Linked DNA regions of Homo sapiens: region 2 is linked to region 1. Evidence: fine-mapped expression QTL. Tissue or cell type: sigmoid colon. Region 1 holds a variant in brackets; the other region holds the start of a gene. All regions are shown on one strand. Distances are between the middles of the regions.

What was found. PIP is the estimated chance that this variant, and not a neighbour inherited with it, causes the effect.
Region 2: it holds the start of MROH2B, and the variant in region 1 is fine-mapped to the expression of MROH2B in sigmoid colon (GTEx, PIP above 0.99).

Annotation. Positions count from the first base shown.
Region 1 is chr5:41,001,660-41,009,304 of GRCh38, forward strand. It overlaps MROH2B (maestro heat like repeat family member 2B), which reads right to left. Exons shown (of 42, transcript NM_173489.5): 32 at 7,621-7,645; 33 at 6,947-7,134; 34 at 5,655-5,795; 35 at 3,872-3,986; 36 at 3,115-3,261; 37 at 2,687-2,869. Among named protein-coding and RNA genes, the nearest start is that of MROH2B, 66 kb to the right of the region's middle. RefSeq lists an enhancer at 6,766-7,645. The variant A/G (reference allele first, on the strand shown) is at 4,877.
Region 2 is chr5:41,067,509-41,075,153 of GRCh38, forward strand. It overlaps MROH2B (maestro heat like repeat family member 2B), which reads right to left and starts at 3,834. Exons shown (of 42, transcript NM_173489.5): 1 at 3,317-3,834; 2 at 2,183-2,244. The coding sequence starts at 3,344. It overlaps LOC105374739 (a long non-coding RNA gene), which reads left to right and starts at 3,849. Exons shown (of 6, transcript XR_001742650.2): 1 at 3,849-4,420.

The DNA.
Region 1 (7,645 bases):
TGAGCCAAGATCGTGCCACTGCATTCCAGCCCGGGTGACAGAGCAGGACTCTGTCTCAAAAAAAGAAAGAAAAAAAAAAGAAAACAAGAGAAAGGTGGTGGTGGAGGAAGATGGCCTCCTATTACCTCATTGGAGTTACGTTTCAGAGTTCCGACAGGGAAGAAACGAAGTGAGATGAATTTCATGGAGGTTTTTTTATTTTTAGACCCAGAAAACTAGTTTAAAATACCCATATGAACAAAAAGGGATTAAAGAAAAAGCAGTCCTGAATAGCAGAATATTATTTAGATAAACAATAAAGTTAATATAGATCTTCTAAAAAATGATGGCTTGTTGGGAAGAGGCCAGAAAAGCTCAGATGTGACTTTGTATAATGAAAATGAAAGTAGAAACACATTTTTTAGATTTATTAGGAATAAGGTCAGGATACATTTTTTAAAAGATACCTCTTTAGAAAGAGGAAGCTAACCAAAAACAAGGTACCAAAAAGGTAGAGAGACATTTAGTTAAAAAAGCTTGAATTTTGCAAAATCAATGAGCTAATGATAGGTCCAGGAACAATCAACCAATCGAGATGATGAAAAATCAGAAAGAAAAAGTGGCAAAAGGATTTTGGGTGCTGGGAGAAATATTAGAGAACGTCTAGTCCAATGTCCTCATGTTCACTTGAGAACATGGAGTCACAGAGGGTAAAGCGATTGCTCAGGGTGACAGTGTGGGGAATAGTAGCAAGAAGGGAATGGAGCATGGGGCAGCAGCCACATTTTCTGTTCTACCATTTCATTCAAGTGTCACCATGTTTTGAAAAGTCTAAGAAAGTATTTAAATATTGAAAGAAACAAAGGAAGAAAACTTGGAGATTATAGAAAGCTATGCTTAATCTACATAAAAATATTGGGGCAATAGATCATAGAGTTAAATATACTTATGTAAAAATGGCATTACTGGAGAACAAATAAGAGTCAAAGTTTTGTCCAACTTTACTTTTATGCAAACGTGATGGAGTTGACACCTATTAGAGATGAGCAAGGTCTGAGCTAACAATCAGCAAGGCTTTAGCACATTTTATCCTTCTCTGATGACACTGGGCAACATTATCTTGACCACTAAATTGTTAAGTGGACTTGTGATTTACTGGAGGCTCAGATCTAAGAGAATTATTATTGGATCAACAACAATCCAGGAAACTTAACAGCTGGGGTTCTGAAGGGGTGACTTCAGCCCTGAACAACGAAGAAAAAGAATATCTTTGTTATTTTTACCCCAGTAAGCATTTTTGAGGACAAGATAATTAAAAATTGCTTTTTTTTTTTTTTTTGAGATGGAGTTTCACTCTTGTTGCCCAGGCTGGAGTGCAGTGGCATGATCTCGGCTCACTGCAACCTCTGCCTCCCGTGTTCAAGCGATTATCCTGTCTCAGTCTCCCTAGTAGCTGGGACTACAGGCGCGCACCGCCACACCCAGCTAATTTTTGTACTTTTACTACAGATGGGGTTTCACCATGTTGGCCAGGCTGGTCTCAAACTTCTGACCTCAGGTGATCCACCTGCCTCAGCCTCCCAAAGTGCTGGGATTACAGGCGTGAGCCACCATGCCTGGCCTAAAAGTGATATTGGTTAATTGGAGGAAATAGTTGGAAACAAGCAGAAAGATGTTTTCAAAGGCCAGGTCTAGGCTAGCACATAGACAAGAAAAACTGCAAAAATACGAAACTGAAGAATGCTGTGGGCATATATTACAGACTAAAATCTAGAGGTTCATATAGTTAGCATGCCAAAATCAGGAAGGGCAAAATTAAAAAAAATAATGGAGCAAAGAAATGGGAAAAGGTTGGATTTGAGAGGTAATATATCCTTAGATTCTATTCAATACTTCTTGAGCCTCATTTAGAGTTCCAACTCAGTCACAGGCTTGCAAAATATTTAATGAGCAGAAAAATTAGGTTTATGATGAATAATGAAAGAAATGAAGACTTCTCAAGTCTGCAGACTGTAAGGTAAATAGGTAATCAAATAAAGCCTTAATGTTTATGAAGAATGCACTAGAGAAGGCAACTAGCAGTTTTCCATCTCCTCTGACAATACTACATGAGGAAGCAGGTTTAGATTACAAAATAATAGGTTTAGGTTAAAAATAGATTTTTACATTGATGGCAATGAATAACCAAAAAATAAATACTAAAATGTGCTTCCTGGAAGGCATAGAGGAAAATGACCCTTCTCTGCCTAGGACTGCTGACTGATCTTTTTTGAAATTGCGATTATGGAGTACATCAAAAGCTGGCAAACGTTTTCTCTAAAAGGCCAGACAGTAAATAGTTTAAACTCTGTGGATCCTAAGATCTCTGTAACAGCCAATCAACCCTTTCTGAGGGGTGAGGAAACCGGGAAATTTATCTACAAACTCTTGTTTCTTATTGTTTGAGGGTCCTTCCTAGGGCATTTCTTCCCCCAACAATTCTGGCTCAACTAGCTTAGATCAATCATGACTGCCAGGCCATAGAGCACCCTCAGGCAGAGAGATACAGGAAGCCAACAGCTTGTATAGAGATTGTCTGCAGGTGACCTGTCTGGGGCAGGCCAAGGAATATGGGTGGGACACTGACAATGTCTTCTGTGAGCACTACCTAAACCTGTTTCTGTTCACTCACTTCTGGGGAGGGAAGTTCCTAAACAGGCTCACTTACATCTTCAAAGAAGGTCCTTGTTTGCAGCACTATTTCCTTGAAGTAGAAGCTCACGTCTCGGTCTGTCAGCAGCTCCAGGATTTTTTTTAGAGCCTTCAAGCTTTCACAGACGACTTCAGTGCGAGCTAGGTGATACAGGCCTCTGATGATAGATTCTAGCATTAACTGCTTATGTTTCTTCACCTATTTTGAAATAAGACCTCTTAATCTTGAAAATTGTTCTATGCGTATCTGGAAGAGGGTAGGAGTCCTCAGACAAGAGGACTGAAATTTTGTCAGGGTCACATGTAGTTCAACCGAAGGACTACCACTTCAGCAATGTATCTGGATTTCCAATTAATTTGTATGCAACAACTAGGCGTGGGTTATTAAATCATTATTTCAAAACTCTACTTAAATGAACCATTTCCCCTTAAAACGCCTTTTACCTTGTGAGGAGCCCCGGATGCTGTGTTGCCGAGCCCTCGGATGGCCATCTGCCTCAGAGTGGCGTTGGAGTCCCAGGCACTTTGATCCATCAAGATCAGCACATTTCGCAGATTCCCATGCTTCCAAAGGATTGGTTCCTTCATGAGCTGAAATAATCAACACACTCCTCCCGTTTAGTTAAGGGCGTGGCCCCTCCTTCAGGAGAGTGCCAAAGACATCACAAGTACAATTAAAGAGAGGACCCCACTGCTTGTGCAGCGGAGGAGGAAGCCCTCTGGTGAACCAGCAAGCCTTGCTGAAGCTGAGCTCTAGATATGAGCAGCGCACAGGTCAAGCTTGCATGGTGATGTAAACCCGGTTACCTGCATAACAGATGTCTAGTCTCAATGGAAAATGGGGCAGGGAAAACAGGAATGACTGATAGTTTTCCTTCTCTGGATTGGCTGGAATAGTCTTCAGGCCGGAATTTGAAGCGTCAGTGCTACAATGCTTTGTTTGATCCCTCACAGATTTATTGTCCCCCTTTCTCTGCCTTCTGCAAACTAGAGGGCAGGAGGTGGGTGAGGTGGTTTATTTTCCTCTCTCACCCCCTGCTTAGGTACCATATATCTGGCAGTAGCTGGTCTCTCCTCTATGAAACCCCCCCCCCCCTTGAAGTCTCTCTTCCCTGGTTCCAGTGCACACTGGGCTCCAGACCATAAGAGAAATACCCTATGGGGACCCAGTGAGTGTGCTCTGAGGGCTGTTCTCCCTTGCCTCAGAGAAGAAAGCTGCGCCGGTTATCCGGTAGTTCTCCGAGGAGGAGGTAAGAGATGAGAGCAGCTGTTCCATGATGTCCAGTATGACTCCGTGTTGCCACACTGCCATGCTCCTAGAAAATGCACATTTTAGCAGAGACATATTTTACTAAACAATGGAGGAAATCTTAGTCTGTTTGTTCATCAGGCAAGTAATTTGTCTAAAAAGGAATGCTTGGCTGGGGGTGGTGGCTCATGCCTGTAATCCTAGAACTTTGGGAGGCCGAGGCAGGTGGATTGCCTGAGCTCAGGAGTTCGAGACCAGCCTGGGCAACATGGTGAAACCCCGTATCTACTAAAATACAAAAAATTAGCCAGGCATGGTGGTGTGCTCCTGTAGTCCCAGCTATTCAGGAGGCTGAGGCAGGAGAATTGTTTGAACCCAGGAGACAGAGGTTGCAGTCAGCCGAGATCGCGCCACTGCACACTCCAGCCTGGGCGAAGAGTAAGATTCTGTCTCCAAAAAAAAAAAAAAGAAAAAAGAAAAAAGAAAAAAGGGATGCTTGATGAAAGCCCACCAAGGCTTAAATTTTAAAATGGCCTATCCAATTGTCCAATTTAAATGCAGTTTGTCTAAACAATCCCATCAAAAAGCAGGCTAAGGACATGAATAGATAATTCTCAAAAGAAGATATACAAATGGCCAACAAACATATGGAAAAATGCTTAACATCACTAATGATCAGGGAAATGGAAATCAAAACCACAGTGCGATACCACCTCACTCCTGCAAGAATGACCATAATAAAATAATAATAATAAAAAAAAAGGTGTTGGCATGGATGCCGTGAAAAGAGAATAATTTTTCACTCTTGGTGGGAATGCAAACTAGTACAACCACTATGGAAAACAGTGGAGCTTCTTAAAGAACTAAAAGTAGATCTACCGGTTGATCCAACAGTCCCACTACTAGGTATCTACCCAGAGGAAAAGAAATCATTATACAAAAAAGATACTTGCACAC[A/G]CATGTTTACAGCAGCACAATTTGCAATTGCAAAAATATAAAACCAGCCCAAATGCCCATTAATCAATGAGTGGATAAAGAAAATGTGGTATATATATACCATGGAATACTACTCAGCCATAAAAAGGAGTGAAATAATGGCATTTGCAGCAACCTGGATGGAATTGGAGACTATTATTCTATGTGAAGTAACTTGGGAATGGAAAACCAAACATTGTATGTTCTGTCTCATATGTGGGAGCTAAGCTATTAGGACGCAAAGGCATAAGAATGATACATTGGACTTTGGGGGTTTGGGGGAAAGGGCAGGAATGAGGTGAGGGATAAGCCTACATATTGGGTGCAGTGTACACTCCTCAGGTGATGGGTGCACCAAAATCTCAGAAATCATCACTAAAGAACTTATTCATGTAATCAAACACCACCTGTTCCCCAAAAACCTACTGAAATAAAAAAATAAAATTTTTTTTAAAAAGCTGATTAAAAAAAGTTCAACAGAATTCTAGGTATGTGAATATTAAATATTTCTTTCAAAAAATAAGTGTAATTTGTCTAAAGATGTTCACCTGAATCATGTTTCTTGAGGTGAGTGGTGTGTGTGGGGCTGATCTTACCATCTCTTCCCATTCCCTTTTCTTTCTTTCCTGTTTGTCCTCCTTCGACTATTAGTCCTAAGTGAATCAATTATGCTCAGTGAAGTTGCCTGTATTGCACTTTTGTTTGTTTGTTTGTTTTTGTTTTCTTCTTTGTATCTGGTTCTAGAAAAAGTGCACATTACCTGGCCAGTGAACATACGCCTATGTGGTGGGTACTAGGACTGCTGAGTAGAGTCCATAAGTTGTCCCCCTCATCAGATTCCTTTGCAAGGCCTTCTCTCATGGCTTGGGCTTGCAAACATTTTAAAGTAGCAGTTGAAAGCCTAAAGGAGACAGTCAGCATTACAAAACTAAGTTGACCCTTATAGGGAATTGCAAATTCCCAAGTTTGCCTTTCCACTCCTCACAATGCTTTCCCACCCCTGGACTAGGGGATGTTGTGTAAGGGAAAAACAGGCAGCCCTATGCTCACATTTTAGCCTTGGGATCCATGGGGACATGCAGATGATGTGGGCCAGTAAGTAATGCCACAAAATCTTGTCAACACTCCCCCCATAAGAAAAAATAGGCCATAAGAATAAAAAGTGAAAAATACCATATTTCACTGATTCTAAAACACGATCTCTGAAATCAGGATGCATCTTGCAGTAGATGTGTGTTACAATTGTTCTTGGCCAGACAGTACTTGTGATGTAGTTGCTATTGTCTGTACATTCACATGTGCTGCCTGGTTCAGATATAGCTCTTTATATTACCATCATTTTAGTAAAGTTACACGTATTATTGGAACTATTACTTTTAATGGTAAAAACAGCAATTACTTTTGCACCAACCTAATACGTGTTGACTAAACGGTGTTTAAAGTGTCTTTAAAAATGTTGCACTATAATTTTACATTGGAATGAAAAGTTATGCAAAATGCAGGGAAACAGAATGATGGGATATGAAATGAAAATTCATACTTCATAATCCTAAAAGAGTTCTTTTGATAAGTACAGAATAAAAATTTTAAAGTTTAAGAAAGCATTGATTCACTGCTTACTTTGGAGTTCTTTTCTGTTTTCTCAATGGTATGCAAAAAATTGCTTTTTTTCAATTGCTGAAGTCTCAGAATTTATGAAATATGGTATTTATTTTTATTTTTCTTTTTTCCCTGGTGGCCTTGAAGATCACAAGATTCCAGCCTCTCTAGAAAGATCTCAATGATAGAAACCAAAGATAATATAGTAGTTCCTCTAGGAAAGAAAGCATAGCCCCTTATTCTTTAAGTGACTATTCTGTGTAGCTACACTGGATACTGGCTCAAGAAGAACTATGGTGTCACGGCTTAGGGAGAGTAGAGCCTTGTAGAGCCTTGTTTCTTCATGGACAATGGATGCTATGACAGAAAGCACAGACCCTGACTTCTGCAGCACCACTCCTGGAGTCTGGGATTAGGACCACTGTGGAAGATGCTTCCTGATTGGCCGTTTACCTGCAGGGGTCTGGGATCTGCTGCTGTTCTCCCTGCTGCATCACATGCCGCCTATGGCTCCAGGGACAAGTGAGCATCTTCTGGCCCAGTGTGCAGCTAACCAGCTTCAGGAGGAGAGTGAACAGCTCTGGATACAAGCCGGTGACAGAGGTGCCCATTGAGATCACTTCATACATAGCACAGGCCACCTGAGGGGAGAAAGGGCCTCTTGGTCAGGCAGTCTCATTTTCTCCAAGGCCATCTTCTCTCTGGGCTGATTTTCAACTTTGTTTTCTCCACCAGTAAAAACACACAGAAAAGGGAGGGTTTATTGTCTGGAAATTTCTCAACTCAGGGCCTGCCATGTTAGTCCTGTGACTGCCAGGGGACACTAGTCATGTAAAATAAAATGTTTTCAGCATTGGGGTTTTTCAACAAAAAGGGTCCTTTGGATATCTTACAGACTTATCTAGAAATATAGATACATAGGTTTTTTGGGGGGTTGATGAGAAATTTGCTTCTAAAAATGATCAGCCACAGACAAAAGTAGAGCCACAACTATAAACTGGAGTAAAGTTAGGGTATGAGAGAAGAAGGAGGTGTCATTAATGTGACAGCACCAAGCTCCAGGTGGGGATAGATCATAAAGATGGCGCAGTCTCAGGCAAGTGATGGGTTCAGGCTGTCCAACTCACTGAAATTGCCTCAACCCTGGCGATG
Region 2 (7,645 bases), 66 kb after region 1:
GGTGTGTGCCACCATGCCCGAATAATTTTTGTATTTTTAGTAGAGACGGGGTTTTTGCCATGTTGGCTACGCTGGTCTCGAACTCCTGACCTCAGGTGATCCACTTGCCTCGGTCTCCCAAAGTGCTGGGATTACAGGCATGAGCCACCGTGCCTGGCTTTAATTGAGGCTTTCTGAACATAACATGCATCTTTAGGAGTCAAAGGCTACAGAGCAAAGTCAATTCTAAAAACTATTTTAACTTGGCTATATTTCTATGGCAAGATCTAATTGACAACCAGGAGAGGCTACCTGCCATTCCATGTCTTTTGAAAATCACTGTTGTGGGACACTCAGGGGAATGGAAATGCCTGTCAGCTTAATTGCTGCCCTTACTATCAGGGAGTGATATGGTACTAGGGAACACACTGTAACTCCCCAAGAGGCTGCTAGGCTATGAAACTGGATCCTAAGGGACATTTACAGGCCCTTGTTTCATTCATGCCTCTGCAGACAGAAAGTTGTGGACATTTTAGACAGGGCCTCCAGTTGTGTGGCTTGACTAGATGCCCTGTGTGAGGAATTGTAAATCTTTTAGGTGGCTATGTGTCCTCTGGATGATGAAAGAGAGACTGGTGTACTGAAATCTCCAACAGCTTCAACATGCACCTCCAGCCACTCCACCCATGCTTAAGTTGTTAAATAGCATCCTTTGCATTACTCCTCAGGGCTGGTCCTTGGGAAGTCTGAGAATAATGCATAATTTTTCTTTGCTTTCTTCCCTGTATTTTCTGGGCCTGCCTAACTATCTCTGTGAGTCCTTTTCTTGCTCCATGTGCTTACTATCCTGTCTGCAGGCCTTGTTCTTTGGCAAGGCTACCATTTATGGAGCTCTCACCACATTCCTGGAACTGTGCCAGACTCATTATCTGGAGCATTTTATTAACGCTCACAAGTCCCTGTCTTAGGTACCACAAATATATTCATTTTATAGATGAGGAAATTGAGTCCCAGGGAGCTTAATGTAGTTAGTGTTACGTACTGATGCTACAATTTGAAACCAACAGTCTGAATTTTAGCTGGCACCTTAACCTCTTGGTTATGCTGGCTATTATTATTCTTTAACTAGACTCATCATAAAATAACTAGGAAGTGCTTGTTAAAAATATATATTCTCTGATCCCTTTACTGGAAATTCTCCTTCAATGTTTCTGGGATCCGGAGGTTATTCTCTTAAGTGATTCCCAATGTTTGAGAAATAGTGTTCTTTCGGAAAGGTGACTTCTACTGAGAGATTAATGTAATGGTTTTCAACCGTACCTAAATGTTTGGATTACCTCCAGGTGCTTAAAATGCCCAAGCTTTTCACAGACTGATCCAATCAGAATCCCTGGTAGTAGGGCCTGGGTGTTGATATTTTCCCAAAACTCTCTAAGGGATTCTAATATATGGTCAGGGTTGAGAACCACTGAATTAAGAGATAAAGGTATAGGCACTGCCCTTCACAAGGAGACAACACTGAATAATGATTAGGAACATTTTTTTTTGGAGTCAGATGGGCTTGCTTTTGGATATAGTCCTGTTGTTCTTAGTTGAGCAAGTCATGTAACTTCTCTCTGCCTAATTTTTTCTCAGTTATCAAATGGAAATAGCAATAACTACCTGATAAAATTGTTCTGAGGAGTGAATATTATACAATACACTGTTGTTTGGAAAATATCTAGCATTTTACTTCCCAGATAAGTGTTCGATGAAGGGCAGTTATTTCTTTTATTTTATAAAAGGTTGTTGAAATGTGAAAAGCCTTCAATTCTTAGGTAAACTTCTAGCTGTGAAATAGCATTATAGATGAGCAGGGAAGAGCTTTTGGGATTTTTGTAACAACCCTCAAATTATAAAAGAAACAGTCTCATCCACATGTTTGTAAGTCTGACATACACCTTTCAACATCTGCCTGTATAAAGTTATAAAAAGGAACTTTTTTTTTGCTATTTTCTAGACATAGATGCTGTGATTCTTGAAATGCCAAATATCATTGCTTAAACATTACAATGACTTTCATTACAACTGCATTTACTGAAAAATCTAATGCCATGTAACAAGCCAGAGAAAAATGAGAAAGTTGAGACAAAGAAAAATATATACGAAATGTTGCAACAAGAAGACTGAAAAAGGGAAAAAGATTTTTCTCTGTTTTCCCTACCTTGTTAACAATATCTTCCTTGTTCAGCATGCCAAGAGTGAGGTTAATATCCCCAAACATCTCTAAAACGTACAGAAAAATATGAATTGAAATATATGCTGAAATGCCCTCCTGTTAATTATTTTGTAATCAACACAGAAAGTTCATTCATTCATTTATCCTCTCTCTCTCTCTCTCCCTTGACTGCTAGCTCTTTGATGGCAGGAACTGTTTTATTCATATCCATGACATAAATGAAACTAGCAGATGCTAAGTTATTATTATTTTTGAAACCTGAATCAAATGTGAAAGGGAAGATAAAAGATGCCGGATTCCTATGTATCCCTCCAGGCAAGTGGGCATTGCCTTGTAAATTCTCTCTTGCAGGATTTAGCTCTCAGAGTCAATGAGGTGAATTTCTCACTCCTGACTTAAGCATTAGAAGGCAGGGGTGCAACATAGCTGTTTATTTTTCACTGGTCCTCCCCTCAATACCTCTCCCATCTTCTTTTTCCATACCCTTTTCAACTCCACCTATTCTCCTGTGCCTGCCAACTCCCTCTTTTGGTCACATGCTAATGAAGGCTTCCTGTTTTCTGACAATGACCTAAATGTGTTTGACTTGCATTTTCTAGGAATATATGTTTTTGAATAAAGCACTCTAGAAAACTGGAAAAAAAATTGAGTCAAAGGAATTGAGCAATTTCAAGCTACATGGCAAGTTGGTAGGAGAAATACTTTTGGAGATGAAGATTTCTTATTAACCTCCACACCAAACAACATACTCATTTAGGGCAATCTTTTTGGCAAAGTAGAAAGGCAGCCATACCTGGAAATTGGGAGAAATACTTCCAAAGGACTCTTCTAGTATTTAAAATTAAATAACAAACTGCCTTTCTTTGATATGTAGCCACTTTCTCCTCAGGTAGACTCTAAATTTTAAAGCACAACCATCTCTTAGGCTTCCAGTCTATTATTGGTCCTTCACAATCAGCATGATTTTATTATGTATTTAGCATACCATTTCATAAATCCTTTGAGGTGTACAGTCCTCCCACAATGACGCGCCACTCCCAGCCCTCATATATACTTATAATTCCACAGAAACAAAACACAGGGAAGAGCCTTGGCTTCTCAGGATCTGATGATGCTTACCTATGGATTCCTCTGTACTAAGTGTCATGTCTTGGCTGTTTCAGGGTCTCTAAAAGATAGCACCTAAGTATTAGAAATAGTAAGGCTAAAAAATCAAAGAGGCAGGTTGGCAAGTTTCTCATATAAGGTTCACATAAGCCTCTCTAAATGAAAGTGCCTCCTCCACTTGATTGGCACAATGGTCTGGGAGCTTCCAGAGATGGGCTTGCTGTTGAAGTTGATACTGTATTCTACCACTATGACATTGTCTTGCGTCTGAACTCCTGCTAACCAACAAAATGGCTGCATCTCACCAAATATTGTCCCTTTGGTGACCAGAGTATTTGGGAAAGAAGTAATTAGAGACTGGGATTCAAACCATTGTTGCAGACCAAAGGTGCTCCTCTCCCTAAACTTGAGTCCATTGATCACAAATTCAGGAATGGTTTTCAGTAGTTGCTTTACTGTCCTGATGTTGGGAAAGGCTTTATGGTGAACTCGTTGATTGTTACACTTAGTGAAAATCAGTCATATGAACTGAGCATGCTCAGTGGACTGGAATGCACTTCAGGGGCAGTTGGATGGAATGTCCAACTGACAGCAGCAAAGTGAAGACCTCTCTACCTCCCTCTCCATTAATTCCTCCCTGGCATGTTCAGGATCTTGGCCTCACTCCAGGCTCAGGCTTTTTCTCTGTCTTCAGCTTTCTTTTTGTTTTCAAATTATTTTTTATCTAGATCAATTTTCCATAATGTTTTCAACTTATCTAGCATGAATTGAAATCTGGTCCCCAACTATAAATCTATGTGATGACAATCTTCAATATATGTCCAGACTCTATGTGAATATGGAGGATGATAGAGAAAGGGAAGGCAGTACTGCTAGTCTATAGGGCTAAATGTAGAATGGGCTGAGGAGGGGAGCTCATGACAATTTTCATCTGCTGCTGCTTTTTTGGCCATCTTAACTTCATCGGTGAAGCTTATTCCAGATTCAAAGGTCAACTGCTTCCAACTAAACCTTTGAATTCATCATTCTTCTCATAGACATTTTGCACTGTATTAAAGAGATCCTCAACATTTTCCGCTTCCCAAGTCAGCATCACTTTCAGAGTTTTGTCTCCAGGTGACTTTATCATGGGATTTACTTGGTATCCTTATTTAAAATGTGAATTCCCAGGCCCCACTTCAGACCCAGTAAATTAGAATGAGGGGGCAGCAATCTATATATTTAATGTGCGCCCCTGGTGATTCTTAGGTTCACTGAACTTTGAAAAGCACTGACCAAGGTCCTTGCCCAAACATTCATTAGTGGATCAGTAAATAGCAGTTAACTGAAGAATGTTTGTTGTGGTTGGGCAAGGAGCTCTTCCCCAGCATCATGACTCACTGAAGAATAGGCCAAGTTTGGTTAGTCAGGGAGGTACTGGGGTGATTAGAGGCATCCCGAAACTCTTAACATCTATAAGATGTTAAGTCTACTTGTAGTAAATAAAACAACAGATTCCCTATAAGGGAAAAAATGATGTTAGAAATTATGTGCTCTTAGAGTCTTAAAAAACAATGTACAGCAGAATCAATAATAAGAAAGCTAGCCATTTAGGTAATTGTTACAACCATTTTCTTAATATTTTTGTGAATGGTGACAAATGATTTTTCTGTATGTCTGTATATAAAGACTTCCTTGATTTCATAGAGATTAGAGAAGTTAGGAGATAATTGATTTATTTTGACTTTTAATTTATTCATCGCTGCAATCAAAACACAACTTTTTGCTAAAATCCTTTCAGACAAAGTAAATTCACTCATTGAAACCAATACTGCAGATAGTTTTAAAATCCCCAAATCCTCAAAATAGCTGATTTGCTGTCATTTTATTTCATTTTTCAGTCGCCTGCTTGTTACATCTTCCCATTATTTCTTCCTCTTCTCATTGCATGAGGCTAACACAATATGGATTTGATTTCTCTAAGACTCTAAGAGGATCCTAAACACGAATTCTCAAAGTGAATAGGATGGCATGTGCTAACTAATTAAGTACTGTTTCTAGATATTTGTGAGGGAGCCTAAATCTAGCCTGCTAAGGAATTAGAGTGTCTCACTGGATATGTGGTAGCCATCCCCTTTCAATGTAACTTGTCAAATGAAGCTACCCAATCCCAGGCCTACTATGTTCCCACATGATGTTATCAGACAAAAATATTAATAAGGCAGTAAAGGTAAAATATAAAGCTAAAGAAGAATAGATACATAGAAATAATACAGAAACGTTATAAAAATTTAAATTTTATGGTTTTAATAGTTTAATTGTAGATGATTTTAATGTATACTACAATTAATCTAAACTTTGATATTTATCCTTTTATTCTTCAGATGACGTGTTAGATTTTTATAAAATATATTAAAAGTGAAATTAGGCTGTGTTTTGTTTGATTTGTCAGTTTCATGAGATAAGCCTAATTTCTTTTTTAAAAATTTTATTATTATTATACTTTAAGTTCTAGGGTACATGTGCACAACGTGCAGTTTTGTTACATATGTATACATGTGCCATGTTTGTGTGCTGCACCCATTAACTCGTCATTTAGCATTAGGTATATCTCCTAATGCTATCCTTTCCCACTCCCCCCACCCCCCAACAGTCCTCAGTGTGTGATGTTCCCCTTCCTTTGTCCATGTGTTCTCATTGTTCAATTCCCACCTATGAGTGAGAACATGCGGTGTTTGGTTTTTTGTCCTTGCGATAGTTTGCTGAGAATGATGGTTTCCAGCTTCATCCATGTCCCTACAAAGGACATGAACTCATCATTTTTTATGGCTGCATAGTATTCCATGGTGTATATGTGCCACATTTTCTTAATCCAGTCTATCATTGATGGACATTTGGGTCGGTTCCAAGTCTTTGCTATTGTGAATAGTGCCGCAATAAACATACGTGTGCATGTGTCCTTATAGCAGCATGATTTATAATCCTTTGGGTATCTACCCATTTATGGGATGGCTGGGTCAAAAGGTAATTCTAGTTTTAGATCCCTGAGGAATCGTCACACTAACTTCCACAATGCTTAAACTAGTTTACAGTCCCACCAACAGTGTAAAAGTGTTCCTATTTCTCCACATCCTCTCCAGCACCTGTTGTTTCCTGACTTTTTAATGATTGCCATTCTAACTGGTGTGAGATGGTATCTCATTGTGGTTTTGATTTGCATTTCTCTGATGGCCAGTGATGATGAGCATTTTTTCAAGTGTTTTTTGGCTGCCTAAATGTCTTCTTTTGAAAAGCGTCTGTTCATATCCTTCACCCATTTTTTGATGGGGTTGTTTGTTTTTTTCTTGTAAACTTGTTTGAGTTCATTGTAGATTCTGGATATTAGCCCTTTATCAGATGAGTAGGTTGCAAAAATGTTCTCCCATTCTCTAGGTTGCCTGTTCACTCCGATGGTAGTTTCTTTTGCTGTGCAGAAGCTCTTTAGTTTAATTAGATCCCATTTGTCAATTTTGTCTTTTGTTGCCATTGCTTTTGGTGTTTTAGACATGAAGTCCTTGCCCATGCCTATGTCCTGAATGGTAACGCCTAGGTTTTCTTCCAGGGTTTTTATGGTTTTAGGTCTAACATGTAAGTCTTTAATCCATCTTGAATTAATTTTTGTATAAGGTGTAAGGAAGGGATCCAGTTTCAGCTTTCTACATATGGCTAGCCAGTTTTCCCAGCACCATTTATTAAATAGGGAATCCTGTCCCCATTGCTTGTTTTTGTCAGGTTTGTCAAAGATCAGATAGTTGTAGATATGCGGCATTATTTCTGAGGGCTCTGTTCTGTTCCATTGGTCTATATCTCTGTTTGGTACCAGTACCATGCTGTTTTGGTTACTGTAGCCTTGTAGTATAGTTTGAAGTCAGGTAGCATGATGCCTCCAGCTTTGTTCTTTTGGCTTAGGATTGACTTGGCAATGTGGGCTCTTTTTTGGTTCCATATGAACTTTAAAGTATTTTTTTCCAATTCTGTGAAGAGAGTCATTGGTAGTTTGATGGGGATGGCATTGAATCTATAAATTACCTTGGGCAGTATGGCCATTTTCACGATATTGATTCTTCCTATCCATGAGCATGGAATGTTCTTCCGTTTGTTTGTATCCTCTTTTATTTCATTGAGCAGTGGTTTGTAGTTCTCCTTGAAGAGGTCCTTCACATCCCTTGTAAGTTGGATTCCTAGGTATTTTATTCTCTTTGAAGCAATTGTGAATGGGAGTTCACTCATGATTTGGTTCTCTGTTTGTCTGTTATTGGTATATAAGAATGCTTGTGATTTTTGCACATTGATTTTGTATCCTGAGACTTTGATGAAGTTGCT